Homo sapiens: one gene and its partner. The protein of the gene in region 2 interacts with the protein of the main gene of each other region in a biochemical or structural test. Each region holds a gene or a part of one and is shown on either strand. Other genes may lie near its edges.

What was found.
Region 1: the proteins of EEA1 (region 2) and RAB22A form a complex in vitro, tested with the Homo sapiens proteins (one study listed by BioGRID).

Annotation. Positions count from the first base shown.
Region 1 is NC_000020.11:58,346,487-58,355,602, reverse strand, and holds part of RAB22A (ras-related protein Rab-22A), read right to left. Parts: intron 2,331-9,116; coding exon 2,259-2,330; intron 2,172-2,258; coding exon 2,065-2,171; intron 1,448-2,064; coding exon 1,338-1,447; intron 1-1,337. UniProt on the Homo sapiens protein: Plays a role in endocytosis and intracellular protein transport. Mediates trafficking of TF from early endosomes to recycling endosomes. Required for NGF-mediated endocytosis of NTRK1, and subsequent neurite outgrowth.
Region 2 is NC_000012.12:92,924,896-92,934,099, forward strand, and holds the start of EEA1 (early endosome antigen 1), read right to left. Parts: upstream 4,401-9,204; 5' UTR 4,172-4,400; coding exon 4,148-4,171; intron 1-4,147. UniProt on the Homo sapiens protein: Binds phospholipid vesicles containing phosphatidylinositol 3-phosphate and participates in endosomal trafficking.

The DNA of each region.
Region 1 (9,116 bases), on a different chromosome or scaffold from region 2:
AGTGATCCTCCTGCCTCAGCCTCTGGAGTAGCTGGGATTATAGGTGACAACCACCATGCCCGGGCACATCATGACGTTTTAACACTGAAATGAACGGGCTGGCCTAGAGGGTGCAATCAGTAGTTCACTGGCCATATCTGGCAGCAGATGGGCTCCTTAGGCCTGCAAAGTACTCTGAAAATACTTAAATGATTGGCCAAATCTAAACAATGGGACATGTAAAAAAAAAATGTGAAAACAACCTCAGCAACCAGGGGCCCACATTCCAGTGTGGCCCCAGCTGATGGAGCTGGGCCTGGCCTGAGCTGGGGTTCCCAAGGCTTCACCTGGGCCTGCTCTGCTCATGGGTCAACCTTGCCTGGCCTTGGTGGGCTCTGGAGTTCATGCCCCTCCTCGACACAATGGCAAAGGACCCTCCCTGCTTCAGTACCCTTGGCTCTCAACCACATGGTGGATCTTAACGCTACATCCACCCTGCTCTGACGGCTTTCTGCTTTTCTCCACCTGGAAGTCTGACATGTTTATGTGACTCCCCACACCTCTACAGGGCCTGCTTCTTTGGACCTCAGCTCTGATAGCACCTCCTTAGGGAGACCTTCCCCAATTGCTTGCAGACATTCCTTCATTTCATCCTAAATTATTTTCTTTGTATCAGTTATTATGATCTGAAATGATCCTATTTATTTGGTGTTCACTGTCTGTTTCCCTCTGTAGAATGTGCGCTCCAGGAGAGCAGGGGCTGCGTCTATCTTCTTCACGGCTATTTCCCCTGAGCCTGGAACAGCTCCCAATAAATATTTTGATGAATTTGAATGAAATGAATAAACATAGATACGATCTGCAGAGGATCCCAAAGGCATGCAGCAGCCCCTCTCCCATCGAGTATCATCATATTAACACTTCTGGAAAGGGAAGGGAAAGAGAAGGGAAAACAGGTCTTACCTTTCACTTGCCTAGTATTATTTTTGAGGGTTTTCTTACCGTGCAAGTATACCTGCATTTCATTTCCCTTTATTCATTTTGTTCATTTTCAATGACCTTGGACGACTAACAGAAACATATTTAAATAGAGAAAGAAATGGGACAGCTTTCATGACCTCAGTACCCTGTGCATTATTTATTCAGTAGCAACACTCTTTCCAGAAGGGCGGCAGCTCTTCAGCAACTATAACATGATATGAAAACTGGACATTACTCTTACCTTCTCCAACTTCATTTCACTGATCACAATATCAGAGACTAGACTGCTCTAAGTAAGACAGGAATTCTAACCAGGAAGATCATTCTGTGTTAAGCGGCTTTTACAGAGGAAATGGATAAGGCACAGAGATACTCACTAATTTCTATAAAGAGTTCATTTATGTTTATCGCGTTTTTTGCGCTGGTCTCTACAAAAATTGCATGAATAGAGTCGGCGTAGTCCTTTGCATCTCTCTCCATGACTTCTCTGGAAGGCAACAACTACATATCAGAAATTCTACCCATGAAGATCTTAGTTGTACCCCCACCTACCCAGTAGTTAACCAGATTTATGATGACAAAGGATGGACTAAATGGCTGCTGGATGGGCCCTGAGACATGGTCTTCTCGATTACACCACATCCATGGGTAAACAAACAAAGTGAAACAAAACTCGGTACCACTAGTAATGTAGCTAATGGAATGATTAGGGATGGCAGGGTTTTCTTCCCCAGCCAAAATTTTCAAAAAGCCCTTGCTTTGGGAATGATGGAAGTGGCCCAGGGAAACTGCCAATAAATGTGCTTTCTGCATTCAAGTATTCTAAGTCATGGGAGCCTGGGGGCTGCTCTGATCTCAGATAATGTTGGATGCAACGCAACCAGTATTTCCGTAAATTGCACACCTGTCTGTATACATAATATAATTAGCTCCAAATGCCTGAAATCTTAATTTTAGTTTAAAAATTTAGGACTCCAACCACACAACCAAAAGGAATTTTTCAATGTCAGAGATAAAATAAAAGCAAGATTCTTAAACTGGATATTGCTTATTAAGAAAAGGAACACATAATAGGTATTGTAATCTCTCGTTCTAATAACTTACCTTACATCGATAAGATCACATTTATTTCCTGCAATGGCAACTACAATATTAGGTGGGCCATGCTGTCGAAGCTCTTTCACCCAATTCTTTAATGTTGAAAATGTCTCCTGTAACACACAAAAAAGAGAGCAACTGGAGATCTAAGCAACCAAAAGAGTTTTCAAAACAATCTAAAGAAAACTATATAGTCTTACTTCTTTTGTGATATCATAAACGATTATAGCTGCAGCCGACCCTCGATAGTACATTGGTGCTAAGGCACGAAACTGCAGAGGAGGGGGAAAAATAAACAAAATTGGGAAAACTGGTTAAATATGTTTTATACTAGATTTATAAGCCCATTATCCCTGCACAAAAAGTAATCTTTCTCTTAAGCCAAGAAAATGACATGCTGCTTTAAAGCAAATGAACCAGTAATTACCAAAGGCAAAAACTTTTAATGTAACACTGAAATGTCTCTCAGAAGATAGTTCAGAATACAGTTTTATAGGAATTAAATATGGCGCTATAAACAATTGTTTCAGCTAAAAAGGCTTTTTAATTGAACTCAATGTTATAATTCCCAAATTCATTTGTTCAATAGTCCTTTAAACTTTGGCTTCCCTAACTATCAGGGGAGATAAAAATAATGCTATAAATAGTTCTCCAGAGAAGTAGCTGCATTTGGGTGTCATAAAGAAAACCCTGTAATCTGAACACTGATTGTCCTTCAGAAATGAGTACACATCTACATTCACTACTTGGATGAGTTTGCAACTTGCTTTTTTGATATCTCCTTGCATGTGGCAATTCTCAAATGCTGGGTACAGATCTCATTTCATTTACATCAATTTAACCCTGAATACACAGCTTCTTCCCACTCATCACCCTGGTCACCCTGGCCTCCACAACCGGTGACACACAACAGGGAGGAAAGAGAAGGGAGAGGAATAACCATTTGAACAGCAAGGGTGATTCAGTGAGCTATTTCTCTCAATGAGTGTGAGATGGAGACTGTGAAGCTCTTTGCCCAGTCAATCTCAGTTCTTGGGCACACGTCCTATGTGAGCATCTCACCAACTGGATATGATGTCAATGTTTAATGACAAGAATTTTGCCTATACTTAATTTTCGTCTTGCACCCTGACTCTGAAGCCTGACCCCTACTTATGATCTGATGACACTGTATTTACATCCTGTTGTTAATGGTGGTTTACCCCTGAACACAGGCAGGGATTATCACAGGGGAGCATTTGGTGCACATACATAAACCACATACAGAACTATGGATTCTGGAACTGCTTATCCAATGAGTTTAACCTTTTGGCTTTTAAAATTTCGTATTAATTTGAGTTTTACGATAAATTTAAAATTTATCAAATTAAATTTTAATTTGATAAACTGACAAATGTATATATCTGTGTGAATATCATCCACTAAGATGTCAAACAGTTCTATCAACACAAAGTTCCTCAATATTCTTCTCACAATGTCCTTCTTCCACCTTGTTTTCATGTCTGTTTTACTGATATTATATAACCACATGGGTCTCTTTTGTTTATTATTTGAATACTACATCCTTTTGCATTCTTTATTTGTTTTTATATTTATAGTAGTCCTCTTATAACCAGCACATAGTTGGGTCCTGATTTTTGACAACCTTTGCCTTTTAAGTGGAAGGTTCAGCAGTTCAGCTCCTTTATATTTAATGTATTTACTAATATATTTGGATTTAGGTCTACCATTGAGACGGAGTTTCGCTCTTGTTGTCTAGGCTGGAGTGCAATGGCGTGATCTCGGCTCACCGCAGCCTCCGCCTCCCGGGTTCAAGCCATTCTCCTGCCTCAGCCTCCCTAGCAGTTGGGATTACAGGCATGCGCTACCACGCCCGGCTAATTTTGTATTTTTAGTAGAGATGGGGTTTCTCCATGTTGGTCAGTCTGGTCTTGAAATCCCGACTTCAGGTGATCCACCTGCCTCGGCCTCCCAAAGTGCTGGGATTACAGGCGTGAGCCACCATGCCCGGCCTGTATCTGTTCCATTTCTTTTAAAATTCCTGCTCCTCCGTTCTTTTCCTCTTTTGCATTGCTTGAATTTTTCTTAGTGTTCAATTTTAGTATATTAACTTCTCTACTGACTTTTGAACTGTACTTGCTTGTATTATTTTTTAAGTTGTTGCTTTTGTAACTATAATATATACTGCACATTTTTCTTTTTTTTTTTTGAGACAGAGTCTCGCTCTGTCACCCAGGCTGGAGTGCAGTGGTGTGTTCTTGGCTCACTGCAAGCTCTGCCTGCCGGGTTCAAGCAATTCTTGTGCCTCAGTCTCCCAAGTAGCTGGGATTACAGTAAGTGCCACCATGCCCGGCTAACTTTTGTATTTTTAGTAGATATGGGGTTTTGCCATGTTGGACAGGCTGATCTTGAACTCCTGGCCTCAAATCTACCTGTCGTGGCCTTTCAAAGTGCTGGGATTACAGGTGTGAGCCCCTGTGTCTGGACTACTGCACGTTTTTCTACAGTCTACTTAGTTTAAAATGCACCACTTCATGTAAAATATCAGAGACTTGCAAAAGTCTAATTTCTTGTTATCCTACCATTCTTTGTACTACCACTGTCAAATAATCTAAATCTATATATGCTATAAACTATACAATCCAGTGTTATAATTTTTGAATTAGTTAACTTTTGAATAATTGAAGAAGAAAAAACATACGTTTCTATTTGCCATTTCTAGTGGCTATTATTTCTTCCTATGGATCTGAATTACCATGTGGTGTCATTTTCCTTTAGTGTGAAAAACCTTCTGGGACAGCTGCTGTTGATTTCTGTTTTTGTTTTTCTAAAAATGTTCTTACTTTGACTTTATATTTGAAAACTAATTTTGGCAAACTGATAGGTTTTTGCTTTCCACACTTTAAAGATCCTGTTCCTCTGGCTTCTGGTCTCCGGCGTTTATGTGTAAAGTTAGCCATCATTCATATTGTTGTTCTCCTGTTTACGTGTCTTTTACTTCTGGGTGCATTCAAGATTTTCTCTTTACCTTTGGTTTTCAGCAGTTTGACTACGACTTACCTAGATATGGTGTTCTTTGAACTTACAGATTTGTTGAACTTCTTGGATTTGTGAGTTATGTTTCACTAAATTCGGGAAATTTTCAGCCATTATTTCTTGAAATCTTTTTTTCTGTTTCCATCTCTCTCTTTGCTCCTCCTGGCTCTCCAATTACACATACGTTAGACTGTTTGAATTTGTCCCTATGATACTGAGACTCTGTCCATATTTTTCTACTGTTTTTCTATTCTTCTGATTAATGTGTTCTATCACCCTCCAGTGAGTTTTTCATCTTAGATATTGCAGCTTTCAGTTTTAGCATTTTCATGTGATTCTTTATTAGTTTCCATTCTATGTGAGATTCCCCATTTGCAGTTAAGTCATTAACACTCCTTTTTTTTTTCCCTTAAGAGATGGGCTTTTGCCATGTTGTCCATGCTGGTTTGGAACTCCTCGACTCAAGCAATATGCCTGTCTCGGCCTTCCAAAGTGCTGGGATTAAAGGCATGAGCCACTGTGCCTGGCCTAGTTTTCTTTAAATCTCTGAACATATGTAAAATATGTGCTTTAAATTCTGTGTCTGCAAATTCCAAGAAAAGGGTCACTTTAGGGTTTGCTTCTACTCACTGGGTCACACCTTCCTGTTTCTTCATATGTGTAGTAGTGCTGACTGTCCACTGGACAGTGTGGATGATGCACTGTAGACGCTTGGTTTTTTTCTTCTCTGAAGAGTATTAAGTTACTGGTGACTCATCCTGAGATTGGTTGGTCTACTTGGGTTTTTGGATTTGCCCTTAGTCCTAGGACACGGTTTCTACTCCCAAGGCATGGCTCTTCTGAAGTTTCATCGGAATGCCCAAGGTGTTTAGTGATCCCCTGTAACACAGCAGGATTGGATTCAAACTTTGAAGTCTAGCCCTGCTGTAATGAGGAGCAGCTGAAATCTCTGCTGTCTTGTCACCCTTGCCAGCTACTGGTTTCTGTTGCATTTTATAATGTCTCTCTTGTGAATTCACAATTTGGGGGTCAAAAAAACTTCAGGGAATTTATAAACAGATTTTAGGGGGTCCCTCCTTGTTGAATCCCTTTTCTGCGATTTGCCTCCTCTTTTTCTGGCTGCTCTAGCAGTCCTAAACTCTGCACTCAACACAAGCTTTCTGCTTAAGTACTAGCTACCCTGTGCCACTCGAACTGGGAAATACCCACTGGGGAAAAGCTGTAAAAATGTGGATCTTACACAAGAAAGCTCCCCTTTGCAGTCCCTGACTGCATTTGGTTGCTCTGCAGTGCCTTCAAACAGTTGTTTTTTTAAAGCTTTGTCTGGAGTTTATATATAATTTTTAGCTGTGGGAGGGCAAGCCACTCGCTATTACTGACATGGAAACTTTCATGTCCTTTTGATGCAAAGAAAGAAGGTGGAGGCATGTAAGAGACTCAAAAGCTGTCAGCACATCTCTGCTCCAAACCTGGCTCTAGATCAGGTGACGGCAAACTTTTTCTGGTAAAGACCAGGTAGTGAATATTTTGGCTTTATGGGTCACATAATCTCTGCTGCAACTACTCAACTCTACTATTGTAGAGTGAAGGTAGCCACAGACCAAGCTTGTCTAACCTGCGGCCTGTTATGTGGCCCAGGACAGCTTTGAATGTGGCCCAACACAAATCCATAAACTTTCTTAAAACACTGAGCTGTTTTTGCGATTTTTTTTTTTTAAGCTCATCAGCTATCGTTGGTGTATTTTATATGCAGCCTGAGACAATTCTTCTTCCAATGTGGCCCAGGGAAGCCAAAAGACTGGACGTCCCTGCCATAGATAATAAACAAACAAGCATGGCTATGTTCCATGAAAGCTTTATTTACAAAAACTGGTGGCAGGTTGGATGTGGCCCAAAAATATATGTGTAAATTCTGTCTGCAAATTCTAATAATGGGATCACTTTCGGGTTTGCTTCTACTCATGGAGTCAGGTCTTCTTGTCTCTTCATGTGGATGGTAACTGTGCACTGGCCAGTGTGGATGATGCACTGCAGACTCTGGTTTCTGGGACTGTCTGCCCCAATTCTAGATGATACTAAGCCACTACACTTGTTCTTGATTTTAAACAGGAGAACAATTCCTTACATGACTACTGTGACAATAAATAAGTCTGAGGCTTCCTAGTGTTCTGATCTCTGTAAAAACAGTCATTGGGAGAAACCATATTAAGATGCAGGAATGTACATTTTTAAAGACTGGATGCAATGTCTATTAGACTCTGGTTAGGAAGCTTTTTTTTTTTGAGATGGAGTCTCACTCCATGGCCCAGGCTGGAGTGCAGTGGTGCGATCTCGGCTCACTGCAACCTCCACCTCCCGGGATCAAGTGATTCTCCTGCCTCAGCCTTCCGAGTAGCTGGGACCACAGGTGTGCGCCACCATGCCTGGCTAATTTTTGTATTTTTAGTAGAGATGGGGTTTCACCATGTTGGCCAGGCTGATCTAGAACTCCTGACCTCAGGTGATCCGCCTGCCTTGGCCTCCCAAAGTGCTGGGATTACAGGCGTGAGCCACTATGCCTGGCCAAGAAGCTTTCTTTTATACAATCACACACAGATGGCAAGTATTTGACATGCTCTTACTACAGGTATGGTGTATTTATGAGGTTTTTTAATATATGTGTTGTGTCTGTCTCAATGCTACTGCAGGAGTCTTTGTTACTGAAGGAGATAATTGGTGGAAAAAGGGTGATTTTAAATGCATTCATTCAAGATAGCAAATAATAGGGACAAAATGGTCTCACAAAGACTCTATCTTGAGAAGATAAACTTAAAATTGTAAAATCAAGTTTAATTTTATCTGGTATTTGAAAAACCTTAGGTTTATTATTGCAGCCAGGAGCTAATTTTCTGGATGAACACTGAGTCGAACTTGATTGATAACTTGGCTATGAATTTTCTGATAAAACTACATACTAGCACAATACGATATCCTTCATTTCATGTTTGACTTTCATAGTCTTATCATAAAAATGACAAATTTTTACAAAAATATTTGAGGGCTTCATCAATTTTCCCTAGGCCCCTCTTAACCCTTTGATACACAAACCATTATCTTCTGAAGCACTTATATCATCATCCTGAGCAGTATTTTTCCTCTTCATTTAAGTTAACAAGATCCCTACTGTCAAGGGCTTCACAGGACATTTGAGAAATTCTCCAAAATCACTTTCATTGACTTAATGAAATCACTTTGCAATCAAACGTAGCTGGACCATCAGAAAGACAATCCATCTGTCAAAACTATGTGCAGTACAAGATGTCAAATGGGGAGGTTGGGGAGGATGTCTGAATGGTCAATTCATCAAAAGGGTTTTCATTTTACGACAATTTTGGTTCCATAATAAATGTCATAACTACAAAGAGTAATAAACATACAACAACAGAAATTTATAATTTGAGTCATGCACTACTCACATGGTAAAAGTAGGTAGAGGAGCTGTCCTTATCTGTGCCTAAGTAGGGCTGGCAATCAGTAGACATAAACCTATGGGCATCAATACCATGTGCCAAGGGGCTGAGAGCAGAGATATGAAGGCAGTCCTTGCCCTCAAGGAGCTTACAGTCTAATGAAAGGCAGACAGGTAAGGAAACAGGTGACAATCCCATGGATGACAGCAATCAAAGACTTCAGGATACAAAGGAATACTCCAAAGAGTTTATTTGCTGATTCATCCAACCAACCAATATCTGAACATCAGCTCTAGGTCAGGCACCATGCTAGGCCCTGGGAGTACAGCAGTGAACAAGACACTGTGGTCCCAGCTCTTGGAGTTACAGTCTGATGGGAGATTCTGTCAATGAAGGTAGGTAGACAGGTATCTAAGGACAATTTTTAATGAATGTTCTGAGGAAAATGAGTAAGGGCAGTAATGAAGAACAAAGTTGGGGCCCTGCTTAGATGCAGGGGGTTTAGAGAAAACTCTGAGTGCATCACATTTAACCTGACACTAAAAGACGGGAAAGGAGCCAGCTGGGCTCCAG
Region 2 (9,204 bases):
TGTCACTTTTTAAAATTCACTTCAATAAATTAGCAATACTTTCATCAAACTTAGATGGGCAACTAATCTGGGAAGCCTTCCCAACATCTAAAACCAGGGCCCTCTTGCTGGGTGTTCTTGGGGCATCCTGAGTTTGTCCTTCCTAGAACTCATTCAAGAGTATAGTTGTATGAATCTCTGAACAATTCCTCTCTCTTCCACTGGACGCTAAACTCCACAAAAAATTCATGACTACTTTACCCATCATTGTCTGCACAGCACACAGTTGGCCCACAAAAGATGTCTCAAAAAAAAAAAAAAAAACACTAATCACAGTTTTTTTGTTTTGTTTTGTTTTGTTTTTAACACAGGGTCTCACTCTGTTGCTGGAGTGCAGTGGCACGATCTTGGCTCACTGCAACCTCTGCCTCCCAGGTTCAAGCAATTCTCCCACCTCAGTCTCCCAAGTAGTTGGGACTACAGGCGTGCACCACGATGCCCGGCTAATTTTTGTATTTTTTGGTAGTGACGGGGTTTCACCACATTGACCAAGCTGGTCTCGAACTCCTGATCTCAGTGATCTGCACGCCTCGGCTTCCCAAAGTGATGGAATTACAGGCATGAGCCACTAAGCCAGCCCACAGTAAGTTATAATACTTAAGAAAGAAATGGCAACAAGGTTTACAAGCTGCCTAAGGTACTAAACGTTGATTAAATTTCTAACCATCAAGTACTTTAAATTCATGTTTTTCTTTGAAGGACTATTAAGTAAAATATTCAATACATACATATTGGAGCTACTTCACTTTGGTTTTGTTTTGAGGTTTTTTTGTTTTTGTTTTCCAGCTTCTTTCAAGCCTCAGAGAAACACCTTAGTAAGCTAATGAAAAAGGAGGAGCAGGAGGAGGGACAAAAGCAGGAGAACCAGAAACCAAATTTCCGTAAAGTATCCTGAGACTTATTGATGATGTTCAAACACTTTGAGTTCTAATTGATGGTAAGCAGTTTGTCTGTTTCTTCTTTTAAAAAATGCTATTTAAAGGAAACTATTCAGAAGAAAATAAGAATAGTTAAAATGAAAAGTTCATCTAAAAACAAAATGCTAAAGGAATGCCACATAATTTTTTTTTTTTTTTTAGACGGAGTTCCGGTCTTGTTGCTCAGGCTGGAGTGCAATGGAGCAATCTCAGCTCACTGCAATCTCCACCTCCCGGGTTCAAGTGATTCTCCTACCTCAGCCTCCTGAGTCGCTGGGATTATAGGCATGCACCACCACTCCCGGCTAATTTTGTATTTTTAGTAGAGTCAGGGTTTCTCCATGTTGGTCAGGCTGGTCTCGAACTCCCGACCTCAGGTGATCCGCCCGTCTCGGCCTCCCAAAGTGCTGGGATTACAGGAATGAGCCACTGCACCCAGCCAAGGAATGCCACATAATTTCAAAGCACAGAGTCCATTTCAAATAAATCTCTAAATTAACAATAGCTTTAATCTTATAGCTTAATATCTGTGCTGAGAAATAAGATTAGCAGGGAGGGGTAAAATAGGTTGCCATGTTACACAATTTAAAGATTCAAGTTATACTTGTTGGTAAATACCACTTGTAGAGTTAATAAAATATATATTCTACCTTCTAAACTAGTAAATCACCAGATTTAAGACATTTATCAAAATGTCCCTATTAAATACTCAGCATTAACACTGACCCAACTACAAGATAAAAGCTGAACTCCTTCAAAGGGACTCTTACGTCCTCTCACAATTTGGTCTCTAGCCACCACGGTAGCTTCATCTCTTACTAATTGCTACAGACCATCTCACTTCCTAAGCTTCATTGTTCACACTCCTCACAGTACTACCTGCGCCTTTTATGACTCCATCTCTTTGCATTTGCTGTTCCCTCTGCCTGACATGCCCTTCCCTCTTCTGAGCTGTGAATATGCCCCCGTCCCTGAAGCTTTTCCTAATTGCCCTCACCTCCCACAGAGTGCCTCCTGGGTCCTCTGTCCTCTTCATTATTCTATTACATAGCACTGTCATTACTTTTAAATGTTCACCTCCCAAACAGCCTGTGAGTTCTAAAGGGAGGACCCACAGCTTAATCAACTGTTTCCTACCCCTTAGCATGAAGCCTGGCATTTACTGAAACTCAATATAAATACACTGAATAAAAGAAAATTAAGTACTTAACTGTGAGAAACACTTCAAACTTTCCTACTAAAGAGTTAATGCATTTAACACAGTGATTCTCAACCAGAGGCAATTTTGCCCCTAGGGGACATTTGGTAAAATCTGGAGCTATTTTTGGTTGTCACAAGGGGGAAGGGATATAGGGGAATGCTACTGGCATCTAGTGGGGGTAGATGCCAGGGATGCTGCTAACATCTTACAAGGCACAGGGCAGCCTCCCACAACGCAGAATTATCCAGTCACAAATGCCAATAGCGCCGACGTTAAGAAACTCAGTTGTCAACTGACTTATTCAGAAGTGATGATTCAATATCACATCTCTGCAATAACCACAATCAATTTCACTTTTGTAGTTTCAACAGAAGCTTCTTTAACAGTTGATAGGTATGCACCAACATTAAAAATGATCTTCATATAATCTCGATGTTTAACTTTAAACCAAGATTACTAGAAAGCATCCCATATTTCTGAAAACCAATCTATAACTACAGCTGAGCTACCCTTAAACCAGTAAACACTTTTATTTGTAAACTTCAAAGCAAACCACAGGCAAACTAATTTTCACTTGCAGAACTATGACAGAAACACAATCTGAAACATGAGGTAATCAGTTCCTCCAGGTCTGATAAAAGAAAAATCTCCTAAAGCCTGAAAGTAAATCATGCACAGATGTCTTTACTGCTGAACTAAGGAAGTGATGGGGAAAGTAAAGGACATGCCCTTGTTACTGCCAAAATCATCGCTTACCGGGATTTCAAAATTCACAAAACACTGCAAAATACAATTAAATGTCAACACAGGTTGTCAGATAAAGAAGTTAACTATTTCTCCCTCTAATAACTGACCAAGTTTCACATGACTTCATTCTTTCAGGAGAAAGCTAGGCAGAAGCAAGAGCACTCCCTTCCTATCTACTGGATGACTCAACTCTCTTCCGCACATTCCTCGGCTGAATCCTACAAATTCACTAATTTCTTTTGTCCTTTGAACTAGTTATCCTACTCCCTCGGTAAAGAACTAATAGGCTCGGCACCTACTTTTCAATCATTTACATTTTGTTACACCCTATCAGCCTCAAAAAGAAAAGAAAAAAGCTATACCAAAAAAAAAAAACAAATTTAAGTTGACAGGTACAATAACTCTTACAGGAAAAGAGATGTGAATTATGTTATTCTAGTAACTGATTCTTAAATGATACACCTACAGTTTTCTAATGCTCTAATCTTTCTATCCTCAAGGTTTTCCAGATTTCAGAGACAGCACAGGCAGAAACTAAGTGTATATACCACTTGATCAAGCTTACTGCGGATTTATTCTTGGATAGCTAAAATAAGGTAGTGGGGCTTGCACAGAAAACATATTTTTAATTAAAAAAAAAGTTTCCAACAGTGAGTAACATCTTCCTTCTCGGCTGACTGTGCCAGTGTCAGTCCCACGCCTGGGCCCAGGCTAGGCCGGGGCTCACCACACCACCCTCCACTGTGGTCCAAAGGAGAAAGCAGGGCCGTGTGTGGCAGGTGCGCATCGTGTCAAATTGGGGGGCACGGGGAGTGCGGCGGGTGGGGAAAGGCGAAGCAAGCCGCCCGAATCTCCCATGGGGCGTTCTCCAGCCCGGCAGGCGGCGGCTGGCCCGTCCCACGGGCACCAACTCTCCATTTTCACTCCCACTCAGGGTTCCCGGGAGGAACGCGCCGGCACCACACCCTCCAGCTCGCAGCCCGCTCGCACACACGGAGCCCCGCGCCGGAGCGGGCGCCAGGCCTGGACGCGCGGGGCCACCAGGGCTCTGCCTGCCGCCCCGCCGCGCCGGCCCCACCCGCCCTCCCCGCCCCCGGGCCGGGCGACCGAGGCCTAAGCGCCTGCCGGGCTGTGGGGCCTAGGGAAGGAAGGAGCCCGCGCTGAGGAGGGGCGCCCGCGCCGCGGCCCCGAGCTCCGGCTGTCCCGCTCACGTGCTGCCAGAAAGACGGTTTCACTCTCTTACCCTCTGTAAAATCCTCCTTAACATGGTTTAACCACCACCCGGCGCCGCCGCGGTGACTCTCCAGACCCTGCGCGGGGCCACTCACTACTCGGGGTGCGCGGGCGGGAGGGACTGGGCCGGGAGGGGACCGGGAAGGAGGTCGGGGCGAGGCGGTGGCGACGGCCGCTCGGGCGGCCCCGACTTCCCCACAGGCGGCGAGAGGGAGCACGCGAGAGAGAGCGAGCGAACGACTAGGCAGCCTGCGAGCGCCTCCAGCCCGCCCGCCGGGCAGCCCCCGTAACTGACAGATGGGCGGGCCCGCCCGCGGCCGCCGGGGGGCGGGGCGGTGGCGGGCCCGCCCCTCGCCTGTCCATTCGCGGGAGGCGGGGCTGAAGGGGGCCGGTCCAGGCCAGCGACCAATCGGAAGCGGTGGCAACGTGGGCGGCTGCGTGACAGACAGGCGGCAGGACGCTGTCGCCGCAGCTTCTTCCGGCTAGCTGGGGGACGCCGAGGCTGCGGAGTGCACGCCTGGGCTCCGTCAGAGGGCCGCGCCCGCGCGACGACCGCGTGCCCGCTAGTGGGAGGCGGGCGAGGACCCCTGGGGGTGTCCCTCCCTGACCCAGGCGGGAGGAGGGGACGCCTTAGGCTGTTTTGTAAAATGTGTCGGTGTGACCCTTCCGGCGATGGCTCCTGACTCGACGTGGTATTGAGCCTGAGCTATATGCTAGTTTCTGCTGGAAACGCTGACTCTGCCTCTTAGCCCCTGGGTTGAAGCCGACTAGAGAATCTCAGACGTGCTTAACCGGTCTGTTGGGCTTCCCTGCCCTTTTCCAGTCCCAGGTTTCCTTTCCCTGCTCCCTTCCTGCTTCTAATTTCAGCCAAAGAGAAAGCAAAGATTTAGAAAAGAAGGGTAGGAAGAAGCTGGAATTTGAATTGGCAAGAGAAGTTTGAGGTTGTCTTTTCTAGATCAAAACAATTTTTAATAGGCTGATGTTCACATGTTGCACTTTCTAAAGCCCGTGCTTGACCTCCTAAGGAATTTTAAGTCCTATTCTGATAATCGATTTATGAAGTAAATTGTCATTAACGCCTCTGTTTTATAGATTAAGAAGAAAATGAGGTCACAGATAAATATCGTGCCAAAACGACGTGGTCTTTGAACTGACCTCCAGGCACGATGTCATTATTTAACTCGAGAAATCACAGCTTCTGCGTCCTACCATTCTGCCAATATTCACAGCCAAGAGGCTCAACTTAACACCCTGGTAGAAAAAGAGAAGCCTTTAATATTGCTTGAATAGGGAAGGAGAGGGAATAATGGAACTAACCTTGCTGGGAGGGAAAAAAAAAAAAAAAGAAAAAACCAACAGACCACTGAATGAAGCCTATGAAGCAATGAATGGAGTGCTTTTTGGAAAGCACTTCCAGATCTTTTGAAAAGCAGCACAAAATTAAATATTATTTGCAAATCAGTTAATGAATAGGAAAATGTTTTGTAAAGTATAATGCATTATATAATGTAATATGATATTTCTATCCCAAATATATTTGGTTTTTTATTATGTGTGTGTGTGTCTCTCGATGGTGCAGCAGCACGGTCATGCCTACAGCTAATATATGAGTAATCACTAGTGATAATGCACTTACAAAGAACATACTTTTCCATCTTTCTAAACATGAGGTGCTTTATTTTCAGACAATATGGGAAACATTCTCAGCGACATGGGGTGATAAAAGTGACTTTTTTTCTCTTTTTTGTTTGTTTTTCAAAAATTAGTTTAGGGTCAGGCACACTGATTTTATGCCTGTAATCCCAGCACTTCGGGAGACGGAAGCAGACAGATTGCTTGAGCTCAGGAGTTTCAGACCAACCTGGACAACATGGCAACAACTCGTCTAAAAAAATATTAGCTGGGTGTGGTGGCATGCGCCTGTGTTCCTAGCTACTCAGGAGGCTGAGGTGAGAGGATCACCTGAGCCCAGGGAGGTTGAGAATGCAGTGAGCTATGATCTCACCACTGTACTCCATCCTGGGTGACAAAATGAGACCCTGTCTTTAAAAAAAAAAAAAAAAGTTTAAAACTGCTTATTAATGTTACATGCTAAGACCTTCTTTACTGGAATTCTCATGTAGAATCCTTTGAATAATATAATAGGCTCTCATCTACAGCTGAGCTAGATGGATTATTGGAAAATCTGTGTACTCCCCTGCACAGTTCATGATAACTCCATCACTGGGATAATACACTGGAGAACTTAATTACTCCAAAAGAAAATAAGCAGTGGGTGAGAGCTAACCATGTAAGAATACCCTTCACTAATCTAGCAGCTTCCTATACATAGCAGTTCTGCTTACCCTGTCTGACCACTAATTCCCATCCGTTCAGCTCTTGTGCATTAATATTCCCCCACCATCTATTTACTTTGATCCCCAGCAAGACCTCAAATCCATTGGCCCTTCTTACTTTCTTAATATCAGTCATTTCCCTAGCCTACTCGTTTCCATCAAAACCCAACCTAAAGCCCATGGTCCAACTTTACAATCTTCCCTTTGCAAATATGCTTAACTTCTTCACCTTTCTTTTTTTTTTTTTTTTTTTTTTTTTTTTTAGATGTAGTCTGTCGCCCAGGCTGGAGTGCAGTGTGCAATCTCACTGCAATCTGTGCCTCCTGGGTTCAAGCAATTCTCCTGCCTCAGCCTCCCAAGTAGCTGGGACTACAGGCACCCACCACCATGCCCAGCTAATTTTTTGTATTTTAGTGGAGATGGGGTTTCACCATGTTGCCCAGGCTGGTCTCAAACTCCTGAGCTCGGGTAATCCACCCACCTCTGCCTCCCAAAATGCTAGGATTACAAACATGAGACACCATACCCGGCCACTTCTTCACCTTTCTCTTCCTCCATTGCTTTTGTCTAGCAGAGGCCAAACCCTGGTTAAGTTCAATTAACCACCTACTCTCTGCTGCACAGGATCCATAGGAATAGAAGGCTGGGCACAGTGGCTCACACCTGTAATCCCAGCACTTTGGGAGGTGAGGGGCGTGGATCACCTGAGGTCAGGAGTTCAAGACCAGTCTGGTGAACATGGTGAAACCCTGTCTCTACTGAAAATACAAAAATTAGCCGGACGTGGTGGCGCACGTCTGTAGTCCCAGCTACTGGGGAGGCTGAGGCACGAGAATCACTTGAAGGCAGGAGGTGGATGGAGGTTGCAGTGAGCTGAGATCACGCCATTGCACTCCAGCCTGGGCAACAGAGTGAGACTTCATCTAATACGTATATATATATGAATAGGAAAGTGTCTAAATATCACTAGAGATACACATATATAACTGGGGTTGTTGGGCTCATTCTGCATTAATAACCACAGATCTCAGGCATATGTCTCCACAACAAGAATATCAATTTTCTGAGCACAAGGATCTTGTCCCCCATTCAGTGCTGTGACCCCAAAACTAAAACATTGCTCAATTCATGGTAAGCACTAAATAAATATTTGTTGAACGAATGAAGGAAGGATTGAAGGAATGAAAGGTATGTAATTACTCCTTTAACAGTTGCCCAGCAGCATTCCTGTTACACTTTATTTCTGTCTTCTTTCTCAAGATCTTCAAGATGGCCTACACATCTATAGTTGCTGCACTTTCTTACTGTATATTTTCTTCTCGACCCATTCCAATCAAGCCTCTGTAGCCTGTGTCCCACTGACTCCAATAAGGCTGTTCTTATGATCACTAATGACCTGCATGTTTCCTATTCCAGTGACTACTTTGTTGTTTCGACTTCGACTGTTTCCTATATAGAAAACAGTTGGCCACTCTCTCCTTGAGTTACTTTATTCTCTTGGCTTCCTTGACACTATACTTTCTGGTTTTTCTCCTCATTGCCCATTCCCTCTATGTCTGATGGCTTCTCTACTGCGTATCTTAATGTTGGAGTGCCCCTACTCTGTTCTGGGGCCCTTGCTTTTATCTGTCATACTCAGCCTAGAAGTAATCTCAACTAGTCCCCTGACTTTTAATTTCATTTATCAGGCCAGCTACGGTGGCTCACACCTGTAATCCCAGCACTTTGGGAGGCCGAGGTGGGTGGATCACGAGGTCAGGAGTTCAAAACCAGCTTAGCCAACATGGTGAAACCCTGTCTGTACTCAAAATACAAAAATTAGCCCGGCATGGTGGTGCACATCTGTAATCCCAGCTACTGGGGAAGCTGAGGCAGGAGAATGGCTTGACCCCAGGAGACGGAGATTGTGGTGAGCCGAGATCGTGCCACTGCACACCAGCCTGGGCAATAGAGCGAGATTCCATCTCAAAAAAAAAAAAAAATCATCTACTTCATATTTCTTCTTGGATGTCTAGTGAGCATATCAAACGTAACATGGCCCAAACAAAACTGTTTCATTTTTATCCTCAAAACATCGTCACCAGTTTTCCTGTCTCCATATGTATCACTACAAGATACTTAGTTGATTCAAACCAAAAATCTCTTTATCTCACCACTTCTCCTCCTTCCAGCGAATCCATCAGGATATCCTGACAAATCCACCTCCAAAATATATCCCAAATCTGACACTTCTTGCCACTTTCACCCTAGTTTATAGCCCCTTCATCTCCTGTCAAGACTACTAGAATAGTCTTCTAGTTGGTCTCCCGCCTTTTACTTTGGCTTCTCTGTAATCCATTCATTACACAGAAGCCAGGGACGACTTTTTAAAATGCAAATCAAAAATGTCACTGCCCTCCTAGATTGTAGCTTCCATTATCATCACAATGAAATCCAAATACCTTATCCTGGCTTACACGCCCTGCTGATCTGGGCCTGCCTGCTTCTCTGCTTTCCACTTAGAATATCCTCCCCTTGACCCACTATGCCCCAGCTGCTCTGGACTTTTCTCAGTTGCACAAAACCTGTTCCTGCCTGTACACCAACCAGTTCCTATTTAGGGAATGCTTTCTCCTGAAATCTCATAGTTAATTTTGTGTCATTCAGATTATTCCCTTAAGGTCACCTCCTTAGAGAGGCCTTCAAGGACCACCTCATCCAAAGTGCTTCGAATCTCTGGTCACCCATTCTA